Linked DNA regions of Homo sapiens: region 2 is linked to region 1. Evidence: fine-mapped QTL for protein levels in blood plasma. Region 1 holds a variant in brackets. A gene starts in the other region. All regions are shown on their reverse strands. Region 1 holds the start of SLC22A4 (solute carrier family 22 member 4). Region 2 holds the start of SPINK2 (serine peptidase inhibitor Kazal type 2).

Evidence for each region. PIP is the chance, under the fine-mapping model, that this variant and not a neighbour inherited with it causes the effect. The UK Biobank Pharma Proteomics Project read protein levels with antibody pairs (Olink). The fine-mapping took linkage between variants from a reference panel, not from the people measured, so its PIPs are less certain.
Region 2: it holds the start of SPINK2, and the variant in region 1 is fine-mapped to the plasma level of the SPINK2 protein (UK Biobank, PIP above 0.99).

What each region holds. Positions count from the first base shown.
Region 1 is chr5:132,293,944-132,310,227 of GRCh38, reverse strand. It overlaps SLC22A4 (solute carrier family 22 member 4), which reads right to left and starts at 15,834. Exons shown (of 10, transcript NM_003059.3): 1 at 15,219-15,834. The coding sequence starts at 15,611. RefSeq lists silencers at 15,667-15,716, 15,787-16,146 and an enhancer at 16,243-16,284. The variant G/A (reference allele first, on the strand shown) is at 7,104.
Region 2 is chr4:56,820,785-56,827,746 of GRCh38, reverse strand. SPINK2 (serine peptidase inhibitor Kazal type 2) reads left to right here and starts at 6,046. Exons shown (of 4, transcript NM_001271718.2): 1 at 6,046-6,289. The coding sequence starts at 6,085. RefSeq lists a silencer at 5,945-6,204.

The DNA of each region.
Region 1 (16,284 bases):
GCAAGTAAATGAGCATGATAGATACCTACTTGGGCCTCAGAACCCAATCTTGTACCAGTGTCCTGCTTTGGACCTATACTCCCTAAGGCAGGACAAAATGAGCTTATTAAATATGATGCCCTACACTTCTTCAAGGAATGTGATACCAGGAGACAATTACCCAGGACTAGGAGTAGAAGGCCTCCATCACAGCCTTTAGCCTCAGACTGAGCCAAGAAGAACTCAAGATTGGTAGAGGCATTAACATGCCAACCATCATCATTCCATCTGCAGTTGAGCAGAAAAGCTCTTTCAAATATAATGTGCTCTCCTTTGTAGTCTGTCAAATATTTTTCTGTCTGGACTTTGCCTTAGGGCAGGATAGATAGGATTTAGAGATAGAAAGGAATGGAAGGCTGTTAGATGTGGAGCCAGGCATTGCATGAGCAAAGGGTAGGACTGGGAACTGGCTACTTAATTTGCAAGGTCCAGGGCAAACTGAAAATGCAGAACTCCTTGGTCAAAAATTATTAAGAATTTCAATACAGCAATGGCAAAGCATTGAAACCAAGTGTGGCGCTCTGTGTGACTGCACAGTTGCATGCCCATGAAGCTGGCCCTGGCAGGGGATCAAACCTGGCCTCCAGGAAATGAAGCAGATGCAGGAGTTCTGAATGGGGACACTGGGAAGGGGGGTGAGGTGAGGGCCATCTCCCATCATTCTCCTTCCTGTAGGCTCTGCATCGATGGCTTTCGGTCCCATTCCCTCCCTGAAGAGGGGCCCAAGAAGCCCTGTCAGCATCATGCAGCACAGGAAGAGCCATGCACACGCAGTGGCCGTTTGCCCCAAGCCCATGAGGGGTGCCATCTGCCTTTGGAGACCCTGCTTACAACCAGCAGGGGAAGGCAGCTAGACTGCATGGCTGCCCATGGTTGATTCTAGGGCTGGGCTCTCCTTTGGGGAGTTATGGTGCCGCAAGTGTCTTTTTGGAAAGCTGTGAGGGGCCTGGTATTAGGACACAGGATTGGCAGATGAAGTTCTACCTGGAGCGAAGGGCTAGAGTCCAGTAAATCAGCTGCCAGTCCTAAGAGGGGTCCTTTAGAAAAGGCTTTTCTTAGGAAACCGGCCCTGCCTGCCCCTGGGCCCTTCAGGTTTGAGGGATATGTCTTGGGTCTCCGCTAGCCAGGGCCACAAAACCTCCCTGTGGTTAACAGTGACATGGCGGGCCCAGTGGGAGACAGTGTTTTCCTTGATGGGACAGACCTGTCCCTGTGGGTCCCTGCACATGTTTGTACATACATGCACACACACATACATACACATGACCAGCTCAGAGGCTAATGGCAGATGTCCTGGTAAGGAGCTGGCTGGCATTGCTTTGGGGGTGTGCTTTCAAGTCAAATCCTAACATTTCTGAAACATAGCTTACCTCCCCTCTCCCTGCCCCTCTGATGGGGCCTCCCGGGGTTACTATGTCTGTCCCATCAGCAGGGTCCCAGACCAAGGTTCTCACAACAGAGCAGAGTGAGCTCCATTTAGCTGGGCCGCATGGCCTTCAGCTCTAATTTAAGAAACAAAAATCCAGGTGACAAGGTAATAGGGGATAGGAGGTCACTCTTGGCATAGAAGGATGTGCCGCTTCCCATGGCTCCCTATAGTAAAGGGAGTAATGGGAAAGACAGTAACAGTGTGTGGAGTGCTCACTGAGTGCCGTGTATTATCTCAGGGGATCTCAGGGTTGGCATGTGAGATGGGTACTCTTATCCTTGTTTTACAAATGAGGAAATGAAGGCACAGAGCAATAAAGCAACCAGCCCAAGTTCTCCTAGTGAATTGGTAAAAAAAAAAAAAAAAAAAAAAAAAAAAAAAAAAAAATTGCTTAATCATTGATTCAACTGACATTCAGCACCTACCTGCTCCAGGCCAGGCTCTGTGTAGGGCACAAGAAAGACATGGTCCCTGCCCTCACAAAGCTCAAGGTCAAGCATACTTTACAGGACAGATGTGCACATGTGCATGCATGAGGCCAGCAGCCCTGGGTGGGGTGGGCGCTGTTCTGGGCCACTTCACCCTTGCTCTTTGGCTAGAGAGGAAAGAGGCACCCCCTCCTCACCATCCTCCAGCAGAAGGACAGAGTTCTAAAACCTGAATAATCCGTATAATCATATTTTAGATGACTAGTGTTTGCACAGTGCTAGGCACACAGTGGGTGCTTAACAAATTGTTGAATGAATATTGAACAATTAATTAGGAGTCATAGAAAATCAGCCTGGAAAATGTGGTTCTTGGGCTGAGGAGTATCACGCATTGCACTTGGAAAATCACCCTCAGCCTTGAACTAACTCTCCAAGTAGCCAAAGTCTGGCAGTTTTAGTTTTTACCAGAGCTATAAAGGACCATAAAGATAAGTGAACCCCGTCTGACCTGCACGGAACTGAGAACGCTGGAAGGTAGCCTGGTGTTCAGCAAAGAACACAGGCTTTCTCGGGGTCTGCAACTTTGGACTGTGTGATGTTGGGCAATCCATTCACCTCTATTAGCCTGCTTCTTCACCTTCAAAAAGATGACAATAATACCTGCTCCTAGGTTTGTTGTGTGCATTGGATGGGAAATATCAGTGGAGCGTCTGACACATTACAGGCCTCATTAAATGGTAGTTCCCTTTCTACCAGGCTCATACTAGTAGAGCATTTTATTTGTCCTGAGCAAAATCATGACTTGGAACACATGGACGAATAAGCAAAGCAGGTTACACTTAAATCTGACTAAGAGAAAGAAATTCTAAGAAATAAAAATTATTCCAGTCCATTACTAAAAGCTAGAAAAGCTCTTATAAAAGGGATTTGATAAATGGAATTCAATCCCAGAGATGACTGTGAGTGAAAAATTAGCAATGGTCCTTTTAAGAATAAAAGATTGATTTCTATAGTATCCTCTCATAGTTATCCTTTATTCTAGAGAAAAGTAAGAAGTAGTAGTTAATAATGGACTATACATCCACCCCAGTTCTATCTTTGTCACTTGATTGTGACTTAAAGCTGGGAATTCCTTGACAATATGAAAAAACAAAACAAAGAAAAACAAAAACAAACATGGCTAGTTAATTACTTTTTTGTAACAACTTTATTGAGATATGATTTATACACCATAACATTTACTCTTTTAAAGTATACAAATCAATCATTTTTAGTATATTCACAGACTTCAGCAACCATCAGCAATGATCTGATTTTAGAATTTTCATCACCCTTGAAAGAAAACCCATACCTGTTAGCAGTCACTCCTCATTCGCTACTTCCTCTAGCCCCTGGAAACCACTAATCTACTTTCTGTCTCTATGAATTTGCCTATTCTGGACATTTCATATAAATGGAATCATACAATATATAGTGTTTTATGACTGGCTTCTTATACTTAGCTCCTTTTCTAAGTCCATCCATGTCATTGTGCAGTGTATCAGCACTTCATTACTTTTTATGGTTTAATAATATGCCATGGTTTGGGCTGGGTGCGGTGGGTCACACCTGTAATCCCAGCACTTTGGGAGGCCGAGGCGGGTGGGTCACCTGAGGTCAGGAGTTCAAGACCAGCCTGGGTAACATGGTGAAACCCTGTCTCTACTAAAAATGCAAAAATTAGCTGGGCACGGTGGCACGTGCCTGTAATCCCAGCTACTTGGGAGACTGAGGCAGGAGAGTTGCTTGAGCCTGGAGGTGGAGGTTGCAGTGAGCTGAGATCACACCACTGCACTCCAGCCTGGGCAACAAAGTGAGACTCCATCTCAACAACAACAACAACAACAACTATATATATATATATATATATATATATATATATATATATATATATATATATATATATATTTCACGGTTTGGGTCTACCACGTTTTCAATGATCTGTTCATCAGTTGATAAGTAGTTGGGTTGTTTCCACTTTTTGGCTACTATGAATAATGCTGCTGTGAACATTCATGTACAACATTTTGTGTGTACATGTTTTCATTTCTTTGGGGTATATACATAGTAGTGAAATTGTTGGGTCATACGGTAAGTATATACTCAACCTTTTGCAGAACTCCTAATCTGCTTTCCAAAGTGGCTACACCATTTTACAATCCCAACAGCAATGAATGAGGGTTTCAATTTCTCCACATTCCTACCAGTACTTGTTATTGTGTGTCTTTAATTTTAGTCATTGTAGTGGGTGTAAAGAGGTATCTCATTGTGGTTTTGATTGCATTTCTCTAATAACTAATGTTGAACATCTTTTGCATTGAATCTATTGATCAATTTGGAGAGCACTGCCATACTAACAATAAGTCTTCTGCTCCATGAACAGAACATGGGAAGCTTTTCCACTTGTTAAGGCCTTCTGGAATTTCTTTCAATGACATTTTATAGTTTTTAAAGTATACATTTTGCAAATTTTTGGTTAAATTTATTTCTGAAGTGCCTCCTTTAATATTTCTTGTAAGACATCACTGCTAGAAACAATTCTCTCAAGTTTTGTGTATTTTTGAATTTCTTTATCTCAGTTTTGAAAGACAGTTTTGTTGGATGCATGATTCTTGGTTGACAGTTTCTTTTTTCCTTCAGCACTTAGAATATGCCACTCCACTGCCTTCTGTCCTTTATGGTTTCTAATGAGAAGTCAAACGTTGATCTTATTGGAGTTCTCTTGTATGTACCTAGTCATATATTTGCTGCTTTCAAAATTTTCCCTTCGTTTTTGTCTCTTTTTTTATTTAAGCAGTTTTACCATGATATATCAGGGTGTGGATCTCTTTGTGATCATTCTATTTGGAGTTTGTTGAGCTTCTGAAAGGTGTAGATTAATGTTTTCCACCAAATTTGGGAAGTTTTCAGTCATTATTTCTTTGAGCATTTTTTCTGCCCTTTTCTCTCTCTCTCCTCTCCTAGTAATTCTATTATGCATATATTGCTATGTTTAATGGTGTTCCCCATTTCTCTGAGACTCTATACATTTTCTTTATTCCCTTTTTCCTCTCTGTTCTTTGGATTGCATAATTTCCAATCCTCTATCTTCAAGTTTGCTGATTCTTTCTTTTGCCTGTTCAAATCTTCTGTTAAGGCCCTTGAGTTACTTTTAAATTTCAATTATTGTATACTTTTACTCCAGAAGTTCTATTCAGTTGTTTTGTTTGTTTAAGAGACAAGGTCTCTTTCTGTTGCCCAGGCTGGGGTTGAACTCCTGGGCTTAAGCAATCCTCCTACCTCAGCCTCCTGAGTAACTGGGACTATAGGCACATGCCATCATGTCTGGCTCAGCTTTTAAAAATATAAATGTAATTTTTCTCTCTTTATTGCTATTCTCTATTTGATGCAATATTGTCATCATACTTTTAAAAGCATGACTTCCTTTCATTCTTTGAACATATTTATAATGGCTGCCTTATGCCTTAAAGTCTGTTAAAATCTGACATGTGGACCCTCTCAGGCAGTTACTGTTGCCCACGTTTTCCCCCCATGTATAGGTCATATTTTTCTGTTTCTCTGCATATCTCGTAATTTCTGGTTAAAAACTGGACATTTTAGATAATATATTGTAGAAATTAGGTACTGTCACATTCTTCCACCCCCATTTCCCTGATCTTTCTTCTTCTTCTTTTCCGAGATGAAGTCTCACTCTGTTGCCCAAGCTAGAGTACAGTGGCATGATCTCGGCTCACTGCAACCTCCACCTCCTGGGTTCCAGCAATTCTCCTGCCTCGGCCTCCTGAGTAGCTGGGATTACAGGGACCTGCCACCATGCCCAGCTAATTTTTGTATTTTTAGTAGAGATGGGGTTTCCCCACATTAGCCAGGCTGGTCTCAAACTCCCGGCCTCAGGTGATCCACCCGCCTTGGCCTCCCAAAGTGCTAGGATTACAGGCATGAGCCACCACGCCAGTCTGATCTTTCTATTAAGCTGTCTGTGTCTGCTGGTATCACACCCAGCTGTTAGCCTCACTAATTGCTAGCCAGTTGCCTCATTCATTTCAATAATGCCCTGGGGGCATATATTGTCCCACAGTCTAATCCAGTTGACGTCAAGCCTCTTTGCAGTGGTAGTTTTTGAGGCAAATCTATAAGGTTTGTTTTGACTCCAGAAGGGCTGCTCTTAGCTGTCTCTTTCTTGTTTTGTTTGTTTGTTTGTTTTCTGTTTTTTCCTGGTAAACTAGCTGCATTATGGGTTCATTTGTTGCTCTAATGGAGTTACCAGAATCCTTTTAGTTGCTTACCACTAAATTCTCCATTGTTCTTGAGAGCAATCTTAGGCTGTCCTTTCACACACTCTATTTCAAATAAAGTTCGTTCCTGTGGGGACAGCTTTAGAACTCTGTTCTTTTGGATTATCTCTCCCCGCTGGGCAAAATATCTGAGCTCCTGTTGTAGAGAGGTAGGCAGGGAAAGCGGCCCATTTATCTCAGAATGACACCCCTACTTTATGAGTCAGACACTGAGTGGAAGTGGGAGCTTGGTGTGGAATCTCTGCCGTATGAATGAGCTGGGATAAGGGCAATCAAGGCTCTAATATTCTCAACTTGTGGCACCTGGAGTAGAGTCTCTACTATATGAATAGGCGGTGGGTGGAGGATGGGAACCTATGATCCCCTGGTTGCACTCACGAGGATTTTACCTTCTGTGGTTTGGAGCTAAGAGAATACAGGGATGGGTGGGGGATGGGCATTGGTTGTCCCTCTTGGTGGGCTGCTGTAGCCCTTCCTTGGAAGCTGATGGGAGAGAGAACAGTATTTTCTTGGCCATACCCACCTAGAGTGGAACTTCCATTTTTCTTGTGCTGGGAGGAAGGGGAAGGGGAGGGCTGAAGGAGTTATGACTCAAATATCATAGACTTCACTGTTCTTGCCAAGGTATAGTCGACTTTCTTGAATAAATATATGCCCTTAGGACAACTTCCAGAGACTCTAAATGTGTGTGTGTGTGTGTGTATTTTCACCAGTTATGGCTGTTTCACTGAGGAGCTGGTCTATGGCGCTGGCGCTCCTCACACTGCTAACTTCGAAGTCTCAGAATCTTTTCATGTGCTAATTGATTTGTATTTCTTTGGCAAAACATCTATTCTCCAAAATGGGCAAATGATTTTATCCATTTTTAAATCA[G/A]GTTGTCTTTTTATTGCTGAGTTATCAGAGTTATTTTTATATTCTAGATACAAATCCTTTATCAGATATATGATTTGTCAATATTTTCTCCCATTTTGTGGGTTATCTTTTTGGCTGTTTAATTCTTCTACTCATATTTTCATTTACAAACAACTAAGCCAGAAGGCTGCTAAGCCTTAAAATGTTCTCAGTATCTTTCTTTCTTTATATTAGAAAAGCTACCACAGATGGAAAAGCCTCACTGATGAGTTCTGTGATCATTGGAGGCTAAACCAAAGCAGAAGAACCAGTGAGTGTGAGTGGGAAGATAGGGATGGGAGTGGAGGGGCTGTGGGAAGGAGAAGGGTCACTCAGGGACCTGGCTGTGCCCCTTGCATCCTGACAATGGATCCACCACAGCTCTACCAGTCTGTATTAGGGGAACATGAGCAAATGGCATCGTGTCTGTGCCAGTCACCAAGCACTGAGGGGAAGCTCTGGAAGTTGCCGCCTGAACCTGCCCTCCAGTCTTGCAAATGCTGAGCAGGAGCCACCAGCCTTGGACTGTCTGTGCTTCTTGCTAGAGCATGTGGGTCATTCCAGCCTTTCCCCAGAACGTCCATTCTCTCCACACCTTCTTCATTCCAAATGGGGATCCTTGCCTTTCTTTTGGACTCCAGAGACATGCATAAAACCACAACACAGCTTTAGAAAACAAGGCACACCTGTATTAGTCTTACACCTAAATTGAATGCAGCCTGCCATAAGGGAGGAATTACAGTCCTTCTAGAGGCCCAAGGTACCTGCAGCTCCCCCTGACCAGTCCTGTCAAAGCCTTGTTTTTGTCAAAATGCCACCTTGGACTCTGTCTGAGAGTTCTGCTGCCCACCAAGAGGGATGGACAAAGTCTGTTTATCCAGAAACTTGGCAGGAGGTGCAGGTGAAGCAGCCTCTGAACAAAAGCATATTCTGAGATCCTGGTGGCTGTTGTCAGAGGAACACAGCAGAGAGGCAAACAGTTTGGGGTGAGGCAGCTGATAAACAAACAGGGAAGCACATTCAGGCCAGAGCAAGGGGAAGCCCCTGAGTCTCCTCTATGTGCTCTCTGGCAAGATCTACTTTCTGAAGCATTGACTGGAAATAGAAGTCTCGCCGGGCTGGCTGGAGCCAGAGGCCCCCACACCTTATCCCCTTTGGAATCTGCCAGAGGGCAGGTCTGAGTATGGACTTGGATGATCAACTTGGTTAATATTCAGGCTATCTTGACAGTCTCCACACCCGTGAGCAATGTCCCAGGGCAGCCTGCAGGCCTGATAGAAACTCCACAAACCTGCCTATCACGGAAGGTTTTCCCCTTTTGTCGGGGCCTACCCAGACCCCAGGGGAGGTGCATCCTTGAGAGCCGCTATGTGAAGTCCCACATAGTGGCAGCCGCATGTGAGGGTTAGTCTGTTTCATTATTCCCTTGCTTGCTGCTCTCAGTGCCTCCCAGAAGTTCCCCGTTAGCAGGGGAAGAGGCCTTATCCTTCGCCACATAACCTGGCTCGCCTCTGGGTTATGGGTGGGGAATCAGTAAGTCCTACTGCTGTTCAGGCCCTGACCCCAGTTCCCAGGAAAGCACAAGGCTAGTGCCACCAGAGGTCCAGGCCCTTTGCTGGAGGCTCCATCAACTCCACTACCAGTGGGCTACCAGCAGCTCCACTAGGGTTCCTAGAGGAGGCAGCCCAGCTGCAGAAGAGGACAGGAGGATCTACGGTGTGGCAGCAGCCCTGTCTTAGATCACTGGTGGCCTGCAAAGAAGGCTGGTCCTTAACACACAAGGTTCCCCCAGGGCCTCTGGAGCACAAGACCTGGCAGAAGTGGTATCCAGCTTAGAGGTGACTGCCTCAGTTTTCCCAGCCCATGGACTGATGGGAAGGTCAAGACCCTAATGATGCTCCATGGGAGAAGAGGACATGCTTGAGGCAAAGGCCAGCCCATGCTTAGCCCCTGGCCACGAGCCAGGATTGCCTCTGCTGCTTGCCCTGTGGCCCTGCAGATGAACTTAGGCCCTCTCCAGAGCAGAGCATTTGTTGCCCTTCCTGCTCCTTTAGCCTCAGGGCAGGAGGCTGCCGGGTTTCCTCACACGCAGGGCCTCTTCTCTCTGAGGTCTTGGCCCTGAGGGCTATATATGAAGGGCCATGCCCATGGAGACTGAGATCTGACCCCTGCAGTAGGTCTCAGGGATGAGGACCCCAGCATCAGACACTCTGGGTTGCTTGGGGCACTTCCTTCCCCAACAGAAGCTTCAGTCCCAACCCAGGTCCCACCAGTCCCTGCTTGCGTTCCTGCTCAACTGCTGCCTGATGGAAAACTTAGCAACGAGCTGTGACTGGCACTCCTCCCGCAGGGGTAAACACAGACTCCTCTAGCCCTGACTGCAGAGACAGATAAAGGCCCTTACCCTGGATATCTACATTCTCTATCCTTAAAGTGAAAAATAACTTGGTTTGAGCTAGAATAACTGGAGCAACAAAATAAAGATGGATAGCATTAGTTTATAACTGATGAAATAAAATAAGTATGTATGAACCTGTACTGATATAAGTTAACAATTGCATACATTAATAAATAGATGTGGAGGGGAAGCTCTTCTTCTCAGAAGAATTCCAATTAATAAATGTTGAAGGAATCAGAAAATGCAAAATCATCACTAGGCAAACTGCAGTAATAATTGTTTCAGTCAAGACCTAGTGATGAATGCTAAAATCAGTGAATAAAAATTTGAGGAGACACAGGATTTTGTATAATCTCGAAGAACCTCCCTTAAGATATTTATTAGTGACAGAGGAAAAAATAGTACCTTTACAGCAGAGAAATTCCACAGACACCAACTTGACAAATGATCAAGGTTAACATCACCAGTAATAAGACACATCAGCATCATGTACCCACTGGTATGATGCCCAGAGAATGCATCACTTCTAAGGTATCATTACCAAAAAGTGCATAACGCAATCTAATTGTGAGAAAAATCATGCCAACCCAAACTGAGGAGCATTCATCAAAATACTCATAAAAATGTCAAGATCATGAAAGATAAGGAAAGACTAAGGAACAATCACAGATTGGAGACTGAGACATGACAACTAAATACAACATGGGATTTTGGATGGGATCCTACGATAGAAAAAGGGCAGTAGTAGAAAAACTGGTGAAATCCAAACAAAGTCTGTAGTTCAGTTATTACTATTGTAACCAATGTTAATTTCCTGGTTTGGATAAATGCATAACGCGTATTTAAATTGTTAACATCAGAGAAAGCTAGATGAAGGGTATATGTGAAATCTCTGTACTATTTTCAAACTTCTCTCTAAATCAAAAGTTATTTCAAAATAAAGTTAAAAAATAATCGCCAGGCGCGGTGGCTCACGCCTGTAATCCCAACACTTTGGGAGGCCGAGGCAGGTGGATCACCTTAGGTCAGGAGTTCGAGACCAGCCTGGCCAACATGGTGAAACCCTGTCTCTACTAAAAATACAAAAAACAAACAAACAAACAAACAAAAAACTAGCCGGGCATGGTAGCAGGCCCCTGTAATCCCAGCTACTCGGGAGGCTGAGGCAGGAGAATCGCTTGAACCAAGGAGGCAGAGGTTGCAGTGAGCCGAGATGGCACCATTGCACTCCTCCACCCTGGGCAACAAGAACGAAGAAAGAAACTCCATCTCAAAAAAATAAAATAAAATAAAATAAAATAAAATAAAATAAAACGAAAAATAATTTGACTCTTAGTAACTGCACAGGTTGAAAAACTTGGACCTCACAATCAACCCCTGAAGAAGGAAACTACCTTATACACATGTACACACACAGACGAATGCACTCACGCAAACCCCAACTCAGACACCTTATTGCTACCTCCTGGCATACTATGAAAGGCATTTCTACAGCACAGCATGCCATCCTTGGTTCCTGGCTAACCCTGTCCTCCTGTGAAGAGGTGTTGGGGGGCAGTTCAGGCAGACTTGTCTGTCCCCAAAGATATGCCCATTGGGAGATCCTGGCACGGCAGTATAAGGCAAAGACACAATCTGAGGACAGTCCCACTACCTGTGTTGTGCCAACTGGGATGCAGAGAACCTTCTCAGGGGCCCTGGGCTTGGCCCTGTACACTGGCACTGGCCAAGTCAGTATGGGTTTGGACTTGTGTTCTATTCTCTGAGGCTTGGAACTGCCACTGTGGGGAGAGGGGCTCAGCCTCCAGCAAGTCCCATCACCTATTACACAGGCCACAACCTGGACTTTAGAACAGCTCCCACCATGCCCACTGTCCCCAGCCAGTGGAGAAGGCAAAGAAGGTGCTGAGCTTCTGCCTTTACCACTCCTCACCACCACCTAGGAAGCCCATTTGCTGGTGCCACACTCTTTGCTGGTGCCACACTCTGTGCTGGCCACCACCGGATGGGGCATGGGGCATTATCTCACTGAGTCCTCCCAACAACTCAGATAAGGTGGCTTCTCTTATTATCCCCATTTTGAAAACTGAGATAAAGTACACATAATATACAGTTTACCATCTTAGCCATTTTTAAGTGTACAGTTCAGAAGCGTTCACACTGTTGTGCAATCAATCTCCAACACTACTTTCATCTTACAAAACTGAAACTCTATACCCATGAAACAACGACTCCCTACTCCTTCCTTCTTCCAGTCCCTGGCAACCACCATTTACTTTCTGCTTCTGTGAGTGTGACTACTCCTGTAGTGAAATCAGAAAATAATTTGTCTTGTGACTGGCTTATTTCACTAAGCGTAGTCTCCTCAAGGTTTATCCACGTTGTAGCATGTCCTTCCTTTTTAAAGCTGAATAATCGTCCATTGTACGCATATACCACATTATGTTTATCCATTTGTCTGTGGAAGGACACTTGGGTTGCTTTCACCTTTTGACTATTGTGAATAATGCTACCATAGACATGGTGTACAAATATCTCTTTGAAACCCTGTTTCAATTATTTTAGACATATATCCAGAATTAGTATTGCTGGATCATATGGTGATTCTATTTTTAATTTTTTTAGGGACCACCACATTATTTTCCATAGTGGCTGCACCATTTTACACTCCCACTAGGAATGAACAAGGGTTTCAATTTCTCTACATCCTCACTAACACTTGTTATTTTCTGTGTTTAAAAACAACAACAACACTTTTTTAGAGGTGGGGTCTTGCCCTGTCACCCAGGCTGGAGTGCAGAGATATGGTCATAGCTCACTGCAACCTCAAACTCTTGGGCTCAAGTGATCCTCCTGCCCCAGCCTCCTGAGAAGCTGGAACTACAGTCACATGCCCTCATGCCTGGCTAATTTTTTATTTATTTTTTGTAGAGATGGGGTCTTACTATGTTGCCCAGTGCTGTCTTGAACTCCTGCCCCCTAGCAATCCTCCTGCCTCGGCCTCCCAAAGTGGATTTCTGGGTGTTTTTTTTTTCTTTTTGTAGTAACTATTTTTAAGGGTACAAAGTGGTACCTCCTTATGATTTTCATTTGCATTTCCCTAGTGATTAGTGATGTTGAGCCTCTTTTCATCGCTTGTACCCCCAATTTATAGACAAGGAAACTGAGGCTTTCATCAGTGATGTAACCTGCCTGGAGTCAGCCAGGTGGTTGGCAGTGGAGTCAAAACTGGCCCTCTACTGAGTCTGACTCCAGAACTCTGTGTGCTGCCGCCCCTCTGGGGGAGAGCCATCCATCCATCCTGCTTACCCTGGTACTTGCTTCCTTCCCTCCTCCTCCCAACCACCAGAGCCCAGTTTTTTGTTGTTGTTGTTGTTTGTTTGTTTGTTTTGAGACACAGTCTGGCTCTGTCACCCAGGCTGGAGTGCTGTGGTGTGATCTCAGCTCACTGCAACCTCCGCCTCCCAGGTTGAAGTGATTCTCCTGCCTTAGCCTCCCGAGTAGCTGGGACTACAGGGGTGCACCACCACTCCCAGCTAATTTTTGTATTTTTAGTAGAGACGGGGTTTCACCATGTTGGCCAGGCTGGTCTCAAACTCCTGACCTCAAGTAATCTGCCCGCCTCAGCCTCTCAAAGTACTGGGATTACAGGCGTGAGCCACTGTGCCCAGCCCCTAGTTGCTTTTTATTTTACTTCCACCACTCAAAAAGGAAGCCAGGAAGGGAAAAGCTGCCAAAAAAAGCAAATCCTGGTGCATGTGTGTGAATGTGTGATGATGTACATCCTTAGAGGTCCCTGTGAACAGCGTACAACATGAGTAGCTATGGACTTGGAGGCCAGCAGCTACTCACCCCTCACGCCCTACAGTGAACAAAACCAGCGAGCAATGGAAAAGCAGACAGGTCAGCCCAGCTGCCAGGGAAGGCTGCCACTCATGGGTCCAGCCTCCATAACAGGCACTGATAACACTTCCAGGAATCGACGCGGGATGAGCTGGCCCCCAGTCTCAGCTGCTCCCAGGCCATGCTGTGGGCAGGGAGTGGGCAAGCACTAGAGCCCCTGCTAGGGAAGCAAATCCAGAGAAGCATGGCCACCTTAGGGCCCAGGGTAGGTATGGTGCCAATGCTGGGGGATCCAAAGGCAGTCCCTGGGCTGAGCCCACTTCCCACAGGTGCCACAGATTCGACAACCACCACGCCTGGCTGGCCACCATTCTCTTGCAGAGGAGAGTTTCAAAACTTCCTCACTGGTCTTCTTGTTTATCATAGCAGCTAGAGTGAGCTCTTTCCAAAAGCACGAACCTGGCCTTAGAATGCTTACTATTTTCTCACTGTCCTCCGAATAAAGTCAGCTCCTCAGTATACATAGAAGGCCACTATGAACTAGCCCTTGTGGCCATTTCTAGTCTCATTTGTCATATCTGTCATCCCTTGAGTTCCAGCCACTCCGATATATGAGAATTCCATTACCTGAATTTCCCATACTCTTGCCTAGACAGGTCTTGCTCACATTTTCAGAATCAGCTAAAATCATATCACCCCTTCTTGGAGTATTTCCTCCACCTATTGTCCCACAGAGAGGGTGATTTATTTATCCCAGGTCACATAGCAAGCAAGGCAGGACTTGAATTTGGGTTCCAGAACCCTATTGCTAACCAGGGTTAATGTTAGCCTTCTCAGTAACACAGCCAGTGTGCCCCATGGGCATCTGAGGGTAGGCTCCACACACCAGATGTCCACACCTTAGTGCTCAGCACAAGGCCAGACACAATGTCTGATGACCGCTATACCGTGCTGAGGGAAAGGGATAAGGGACTAGCAGAGGCCACTCAGGTTTTTCTTGGGAGGAGCATGAGGCAGAGGAGGGACTAGCAGCAGGGAAATCCTACCTGCCTGACCAATAGCAGGCAACAGCTCCATGAGGATGCTCTCCTCAGAAGAAAGGTGTATCCTGACCCAGGTCCTTACCAGATGTGAAGCAGCAAAAGCGGGAGAAGTGTGTGTGCATCCTCATTCCTGGAACTTAGAAAACCTGCCACTAACCACGCAGGGTGCTGAGGGGCTACAGCCCCTGCCTGCCAACTCACCCTGTGCTCAGAGAGGTCCCTGAGGGCCAGGGCTTCCAGCTGGGGTTTCGCCTTCTGTGCTTCCTTGCACCCAATGAGCCTCAGGAGGCCATCTGCTGTCTTAGAGAAACTGGGGCCTCAGGAAAGGACCCCAAACCTCACAAGTATATGGTACGGCAGTACACCTCCTGATGCCTCCAGAAGTCTGTGGCCAGGGAACAGACAAGATTTGGCCCCGCCCTGCCCAGTAACAAGGTCCCTCACACCCCTCCTCCCATGCCTGGCAGGAAGGTGACTCAGGCAGTGCGTCTGGGTAGCCTGGGGCTGCGCTTCCCCCAACGCAACATCTAGGTTCTTAGGAAACTTCATTTGTTGTGAAAATCGGAAATGAAAAGACAGTTGGTGACAAACTCCTTTCTCCATCACCTCCTTATTGGACAGAAACGACCCAGGAATGCGCCTCGCGTGAGTCCTATTCTTTCTTGGGGTGCACACCCGCTGCTGGAAGTATGAACAGCAGGTTTGAGGGGGAGGGGAGCGCTGACCCGGGCACTGCGCAGGGAGTCTCAAGGGGGGCTGACGCAGAGGGAGGGTCAGGCACTCCCGGGTCAACGGTCTCGGCCTGGCACCCACCTCGGTCACGACGGTGGACAGGTAGACGTCCTGGCTGAACTCCCAGCCATCCAGGCAGCTCTCCTGCTCCAGCTGCCCCAGGTCCACGTCGCGCCCCGGCTCCAGCCCGAGCGCCGAGAAGTTGGCGATGGTGGCGAGCCGGTAGCGGCTGCAGCTGTGGGGCACCTCGCGGCCGTCCCGCAGCCGCAGCGGGACACTGTTGTTGCGCCAGGCGCTGCTCAGGTTCGCGGCGTCCGGCACTCGACAGCGGTGCTCCGGGGTCCCCGCCAGGAACACGACTGACATACCATTGAAGCCATTGGGGATGATGCTGGCGCTGAGCAGGAAGAAGATGAGGCGCTGGAAGGGCCCCCACTCGCCCAGGAAGGCGATCACCTCGTCGTAGTCCCGCATGCTTCCCACTGCCGCTCCGAAACTTGCAACTACGGGTGATGACAGCGTTCTCAGGACAGTGTCTTGTAGCTGGGGCGCTCCCCAAGGATGTTAGAACGTTCCCGGGGGACAGGCAGGCTGTTAGAAATTGGGGCGCGAAGCCGGGGACCGTTCCTGGGAAACAGGCTGAAGGCGTTGGAGCGTTCCCGGGAGCTCGCGCTGAGCTTGATGCCACTGTACACTTGGGACCACACCCCCATCCCCGGCCGGGCGCGGGGAAGGGGAGGGCGGCCCAGCCCGGGAGGCTGGGCTCCCGGCTGTCTCCGCCCTGTGCTTCGCGCGCCCGCCCGCCCCCAAGGACCTGACGGGGGCTTCCAGGCTGGGCTCAGCCATTCCGCCCGCGTGCCGGGGAAGAAGCTCGTTCTCGGTTGTCCCCAGCCACCCCCGAGCGCTGATTCCCAGACCTGGGCCCCACGTGGGAGGGCGGGCGCAAGGGAGGAGCCGAGGCCAGAGAGCGAGTTCTCGGAGGGGTCGGCCCTCGATCTGCTCGGGCCGCGTGGCCCCGGGCCCAGACCCCAGCAGGGTTCCCTCCGCGGTCTCCTCCAATCTGGAGGCTGAGCTTAGGCTGCCACGCGTGGGGCGCGGAGGGGCGAGTCAGTGGAGTCGGTTCCCGGGAAACTTCTGGGGGCGGCAG
Region 2 (6,962 bases), not on the chromosome of region 1:
TCATCTTCTGAAATCTAGGCGGAGGTTCCCAAGCCTCAATTCCTGACTTCTGTGCACCTGCAGGCTCAACACCATATGGAAGCTACCAAGACTTGTGGCTTCCACCCTCTAAAGCCACAGCCTGAGCTGTATGTTGGCCCTTTTCACCCATGGCTGGAGCAGCTAGGACACAGGGCACCAAGTCCCTAGGATGCACACAGCACAGGGACCCTGGGCCCCACCCACAAAACCACTTTTTCCTCCTGGGCCTCCAGTCCTGTAATGAGAGGAGCTGCAGTGAAAGTCTCTGACATGTCCTGGAGACATTTTCCCCATGGTCTTGGGGATTAACATTAGGGTCCTTGCTACTCATACAAATTTCAGCAGCCGGCTTGAATTTCCCCCCAGAAAATGGGTTTCTCTTTTTCTTTCTTTCTTTCTTTCTTTTTTTTTTTTTTTTTTTTTTTTGAGACAGAGTCTTGCTCTTCTTGCCCAGGCTAGAGTGCAATGGAGTGATCTCGGTTTACTGCGACCCCTGCTTCCCGGGTTCAAGCGATTCTACTGCCTCAGCCTCCTGAGTAAGCTGGGATTACAGGTATGCACCACCACACCTGGCTAATTTTGTATTTTTAGTAGACAGGGTTTCACCATCTTGGTCCGGCTGGTCTCAAACTCCTGACCTCATGTGATCCACCCAACTTGGCCTCCCAAAGTGTTGGGATTACAGGCGTGAGCCACTGCACCTGGCCCTTTTTTTTTTCTTTTTTTTTTTGAGACGGAGTTTCCCTCTTGTTGCCCAGGCTGGAGTACAATGGTGTGATCTCGGCTCACTGCAACCTCCGCCTCCCAAGTTCAAGCAATTCTCCTGCCTCAGCCTCCCAAGTAGCTGGGATTACAGGCATGCACCATCATGCCTGGATAATTTTGTATTTTTAGTAGAGACGGGGTTTCTCCATGTTGAGGCTGGTCTCGAACTCCTGACCTCAGGTGATCCGCCCGCCTTGGCCTCCTAAAGTGCTGGGATTACAGGCATGAGCCACCACGCCCAGCTTTTCTTTCTTTCTTTTTTTTTTTTTTGAGACAGAGTTTCTTTCACTCTTGCCGCCCAGGCTGGAGTGCAATGGCGCCATCATCTCTGCTCACCACAACCTCTGCCTCCCGGCTTCAAGCGATTCTCCTGCCTCAGCCTCCGGAGTAGATGGGATTACAGGTGCCCACCGCCACGTTTGGCTAATTTTTGTACTTTTAGTAGAGACAGGGTTTCACCATGTTGGCCAGGCTGATCTCAAACTCCTGACCTCAGGTTATCAGCCCACCTCAGCCTCCCGAAGTGCTGGGATTACAAGTGTGAGCCACTGTGCCTGTCCGGGCTTTTCTTTTCTATCACATAATCAGGCTACAAATTTTCCAAACTTTTATGCTCTGCTTCCCTTATAAAACTGAACACCTTTAACAGTACCCAAGTCACCCCTTGAATGCTTTGCTGCTTAGAAATTTCTTCAGCCAGATATCCTAAATCATCTTTCTCAGGTTCAAAGTTCCACAAATCTCTAGGGCAGGGGCAAAATGCCACCAGTCTCTTTGCTAAAACATAACAAGAGTCACCTTTACTCTAGTTCCCAACAAGTTCCTCATCTCCATCTTAGACCACCTCAGCCTGGACCTTATTCTCCTTATCACTATCAGCATTTTGGGCAAAGCCATTCAGCAAGTCTCTAGGAAGTTCCAAACTTTCCCACATTTTCCTGTCTTCTTCTGAGCCCTCCAAACTGTTCCAACTTCTGCCTGTTACCCAGTTCCAAATTCACTTCCACATTTTTGGTATCTTTTCAGCAACGCCCCACTCTCCTGGTACCAATTTACTGTATTAGTCCATTTTCATGCTGCTGATAAAGACATACATGAGACTGGGAAGAAAAAAGGGTTTAATTGGACTTACAGTTCCACATGGCTGGGGAGGCCTCACAATCATGGTGGGAGGTGAAAGGCCCTTCTTACATGGCAGGAGCAAGAGAAAAAATGAGGAGGAAGCAAAAATGGAAACTCCTGATAAACCCATCAGATCTCCTGGACTTATTCACTATCATGAGAATGGCATGGGAAAGACTGGCCCCCATGATTCAATTATCCCCCTGGGTCCCTCCCGCAACACTTGGGAAATCCGGGAGATAGAATTCAAGTTGAGATTTAAGTGGGGACACAGCCAAACCATATCACCTACCTCTACAAAAAATACAAGAATATTAGCTGGGTGTGGTGGCGGATGCTTGTATTCCTAGCTACTTGTGGGGCTGAGGTGGGAGGATCGCTTGAGCCCAGGAGGTTGAGGCTGCAGTGAGCTGAGATTGCGCCACTGTACTCCAGCCTGGGTGACACAGCAAGATCTTCTCTCAAAAAAAAAAAAAAAAAGAATACAGTTATGCCCATTCATTGAGTTATAGTCTATGTCTCCTTTTGCACTGCAATGGCAGAGTTTAGTTGTGACAAGAAGTCAATGGTATTTACTATCTGGCCCTTTACAGAAAATGTTTTTTGACCCTTGTTCTTGGCTCACAAATGCTGAGACAACATGTGAAAAGCACCATGATAGAAAATATTTCTAAGGTATAATTATCAACATTTTTTTTTTTTTTTTGAGACGGAGTCTCGCTCTGTCACCCAGGCTGAAATGCAGTGGTGTGATCATGGCTCACTGCAGCCTCCACCTCCCAGGCTCAGGTGATCCTCCCACCTCAGCCTCCTAAGTAGCTGGGACTACAGGTGCGCGCCACCACACCAGGCTAATTTTTGTATTTTTTTAGAGACAGGGTTTTGTCATGTTGCCCAGGTTGGTCTCCAACTCCTGGGCTCAAACAATCTGCCCGCCTCTGCCTCCCAAAGTGCTGGGATTACAGGCATGAGCCACCCTGCCAGTCAGTGTCAACTCTTTGAAACAAAATAACCTAAAGGCAGCTGTATCCACACACATAAATTTATAAAAAATCTATCTTGAGGGGTAAATGGCTTTTCTTTTGAAGCTGAAATTCCTACTCACACACCTCTGAGCATTGCCCCTGAGTCTGGGTCAGATTTGTGTTCCCAGAGCATCAAAGGTGTTTGTAAGCAAGTGCACATGTCATTTGGTAACAGACATCCAGCACAGTTGAGAAAAGCTTTATATATAAATTATATTTTATCAATCCTTGATAAGAATCTTCAGCAAAATGACCCATGACCATTTCATGACTGTTATTCAAAGAACTGAATGTGATGTGACTTAGAGAAGTACTAACACTCATTTCAAATTTACCCCTTGGCCTCAGACAGGATTCCAGCCAGAACTCAGCCATGTGTGGTGCCAAGTGGAGTTAAAAACTGCACAGTGTCTTCTTGTTCCAGCCTTTGAGGTTGCTAAGGTCAAGGGTGGGCATGGGAACATGCCAGTCATAAGATGATTCTCCATCAGCTCTACAACCCCCTTCTACACTCTGCTATGTGGTGCCAGGTCTCAGCAGACCTCATTTCTGCTTTTTCAGCTGGCTTCCAGAAGGTTATGCCCATAGGGTCTGTCAGGGGGACACCGGAAGGCAGGAGGAGGGAGAAGGGACTGGCTCCTGCCTGCTGGCTGTTTCTTTCAGCAGTGCCACAGCAATGACTCTTCATCACTCTGATAGAATCAGCTGGCTCCAGTCTCCAGCATTTTTTTTTTTTTTTTTGAGACAGAGTTTCACTCTGTTGCCCAGGCTGGAGTGCAGTGGTGTGCTTCGCTCACCACAACCTCCACCTCCTAGGTTCAAGAGATTCTCATGAACCTGGGATTACAGGAGTATGGCACCATGTCCAGCTAAGTTTTATATTTTTTAGTAGAGACAAGGTTTCACCATGTTGGCCAGGCTGGTCTCGAACTCCCGACCTCAAGTGACCCACCCACCTCAACCTCCCAAAGTGCTGGGATTACAGGTGTGAGCCACTGCACCTGGCTCCAGTCTTCAGCTTTTCCACACACTCTTAGAGCCACCTGCATATCCAAGCAACACCCCCTTCCCATGGGTCTGAGTCCCAGCTTTCCAGGACCTCTCCTCCAAATTTCTAGTTCTGAGAATCCCAACCTAATCCGTTTGTTCCCCTAGATCGAGGCATGATGCCTACTTCCTAAAGGCTTTATCTCTGTGTTACCTCGTTTTCCCTTTCTGCTTTTTTCAGTTATCCCTACTGGATTAGCCAATTCCTTATACTAAATTATCTCTGGTGAAATACCTAGTAAACCTTGTGTTTTCCAGACTGGACCCTTACTGATAAGGCAACATGTCACAGAATCATTTGACACACAGGCATAAGAAGCAGAAAAAAAAAAAAGTGGATCTGCTAATGCACTTTTTTTTTTTTTTGACAGAGTCTTACTCTGTCGCCCAGGCTGGAGTGCAGTGGCACCATCTCGGCTCACTGCAACCTCTGCCTCTTGGGTTTAAGCAATTCTCATGCCTCAGCCTCCCAGGTAGCTGGGACTACAGGTGCGCACCACCATGCACAGCTAATTTTTGTATTTTTAGTAGAGATGGGGTCTTGCCATGTTGGCCAGGCTGGTCTCAAACTCCTGGCCTCAAGTGATCTACTTGCCTCAGCCTCGCAAAGTGCTGGGATTACGGGCATGAACCACCGTGCCTGGCCAAATTTTTTTGACATGGTCTCATTTTGCCACTGAGGCTGGAGCGCAGTAGCTCAATCTCAGCTCAATGGCCACACCTGGCTAATTTTTGTACTTTTTTTAGAGACGGGGTTTTGCCCTGTTGCCCAGGCTCCTCTCAAACTCTTGAGCTCAAGTGATCCACCAGGCTCAGCCTCCCAAAGTGCTGGGATTAGAGGCGTGAGCCACCACGCCTGGCCTTAATGCACTAACTTGCTCAGCCTCTTTGGCAAAAATTATTTCTCACAGAAGTAATGAGTAGAACAGTAGTTACTAGAGGCTGGGAAGGATAGGGGGATAGGGAGAGGTTGGTTAAAGTATACAAAATTACAGCTAGGTAGAAAGGATAAGTGCTAGTGTTTCATAGCATTGTAGGGTGCCGACAATTAACAATAATATATTATAAAGGTCGAGCACGGTGGCTCAAGCCTGTAATCCCAGCACTTTGGGAGGCCAAGGTGGGCGGATTGCTTGAGCCCAGGAGTTTGAGAGTAGCCTGGGCAACATGGTGAGAACCCCTCTCTACAAAAAATGCAAAAATTAGCTTGGCATGGTGGCATATATCTGTGGTCCCAGCTACTTGGGAGGGAGGCTGAGGTGGGAGGATCACTGGAACCTGGGAGGTGGAGGTTGCAGTGAGCTGAGATCGTGCCACTGCACTCCAGCCTGGGTAAAAGAGCGAGACCCTGTCTGAAATTTAAATAATAATAATAATTTATTATGTATTTTCAAGTAGCTAGATGAGAGGATTTTGAATGTTCTCAACACAAAGTAATGATAAATGTTTGAGGTGATGAATATGCTAATTATCCTATTTTGATCACTACACATTGTATGTATCCAAATATCACTATGTACCCCCATAAATATGTACAATCATTATGTGTCAACTCAAATAGTTAAAAAATATATTAAAAGAGGGAAAGGCAGAACGCTTCCTGAGAGCAAGGACCTCCTTTGTCGAGGTCAGGGCTGTGTCTTCAGCAACGAAACACTATCTGGGACTTAGTACATGCTTAAGAAATAGGTGTTGATTGACAGAGCTCCCAAGAGCTCCACAAGGGTCCCCCTAGGACTGTCACAGGTTCTTGTATGTCGGAGGGAGAGGTCTTCCCCTTCGTCTCCTTGGGGGGAGGGGAAGGTGTTGGGGAACAACTGCCCCTTCCTCTATCTCCCTCGCCCCTCCTTCCCCATGGCCCCCTCCCCCGTCCTTCTACCTTTCTCCTTCCCAGCCCTTTCCGGTTCTCCCCCGACCCTTCACGGCTCCTCTTCCCGCCGCTCCTCTTCCCGCCGCCCCTCTTCCCTCGCCACCTACCGCTGCTTTTCCTCCCATTCTCGCCCCGCCCCTTCCCCCGCCCTCCCCGCGCCCCGTCGCACGAGCGCTCCCTGCGAGTGGCGCAGGTAACAGACCGCAGGGGCAAGACAGCCGGCGCGGGAGGAGGATGGCGCTGTCGGTGCTGCGCTTGGCGCTGCTGCTCCTGGCAGTTACCTTCGCAGGTAGCGCTCGGAGCGGTCCTGGCGAGCGGGGACCTCCGGAGAAAAGCGGGTTTGGGAGTCAGACCGGCGGCGGACCCTGCCCTGCTCCGGGCGGCCTCGGCGACGGTACCCGCGCGCCCGTTACTGGCGGTTCCCCAGAGGACCTGCCAGGTGGAGGAACGCGAACTGGGGGTTGTGGGGGTGGCTTTGTGGAGTCAGCCACCCTCTTTAGTTCTTGCTTGGGCTTCGCTCCCAGCTCTAAGGACACCTGCCATCTAGAGCGCTTTCTCTGTTAAAGTAGATTTTCAGGTGCCCAAGATGAGGAGTTGAGTTTTTATGTATGGTCCCAAGGGAGGAGATGTGCAGGAATGAGGAATTGTGGATGCTTACGAGAAAGGGGCTTTAGTCCAACCACACTGGACACCTCTCTTAAAATGGAGTTAAAATGCTCACATCTTATATTAAATTTTGTATTTGTTACCCCGAGTTGTAAAGGAAAATAACATCATGAACTATTAATTAAGGGTTACTTCCTTGGCCAGGTGTAGTGGCTTGGGCCGGTAGTCCCAGTTACTCCGGAGGTTGAGGCGGGAGGCTCGCTTGAGACCAGGAATTGAAGCTGCAGTGCGCTAGCGCGACTTTTATTCCATAGCTTCAAAGTCCTTTCTCAACCAACCCTAATGGGAACAGAACCAAATGTTATTTCTATGTGCTTTTGGGGAGAGGTGCCATAAAAAACTGAATATCCTTTCTGGGGGAAGTGGGATGGGGACAGTTTAAAGAAGGTAGGCATTAGAGGGGAAAATAGAAGATGTGGCCTGGATAAATCCCAAACTGGATTTTA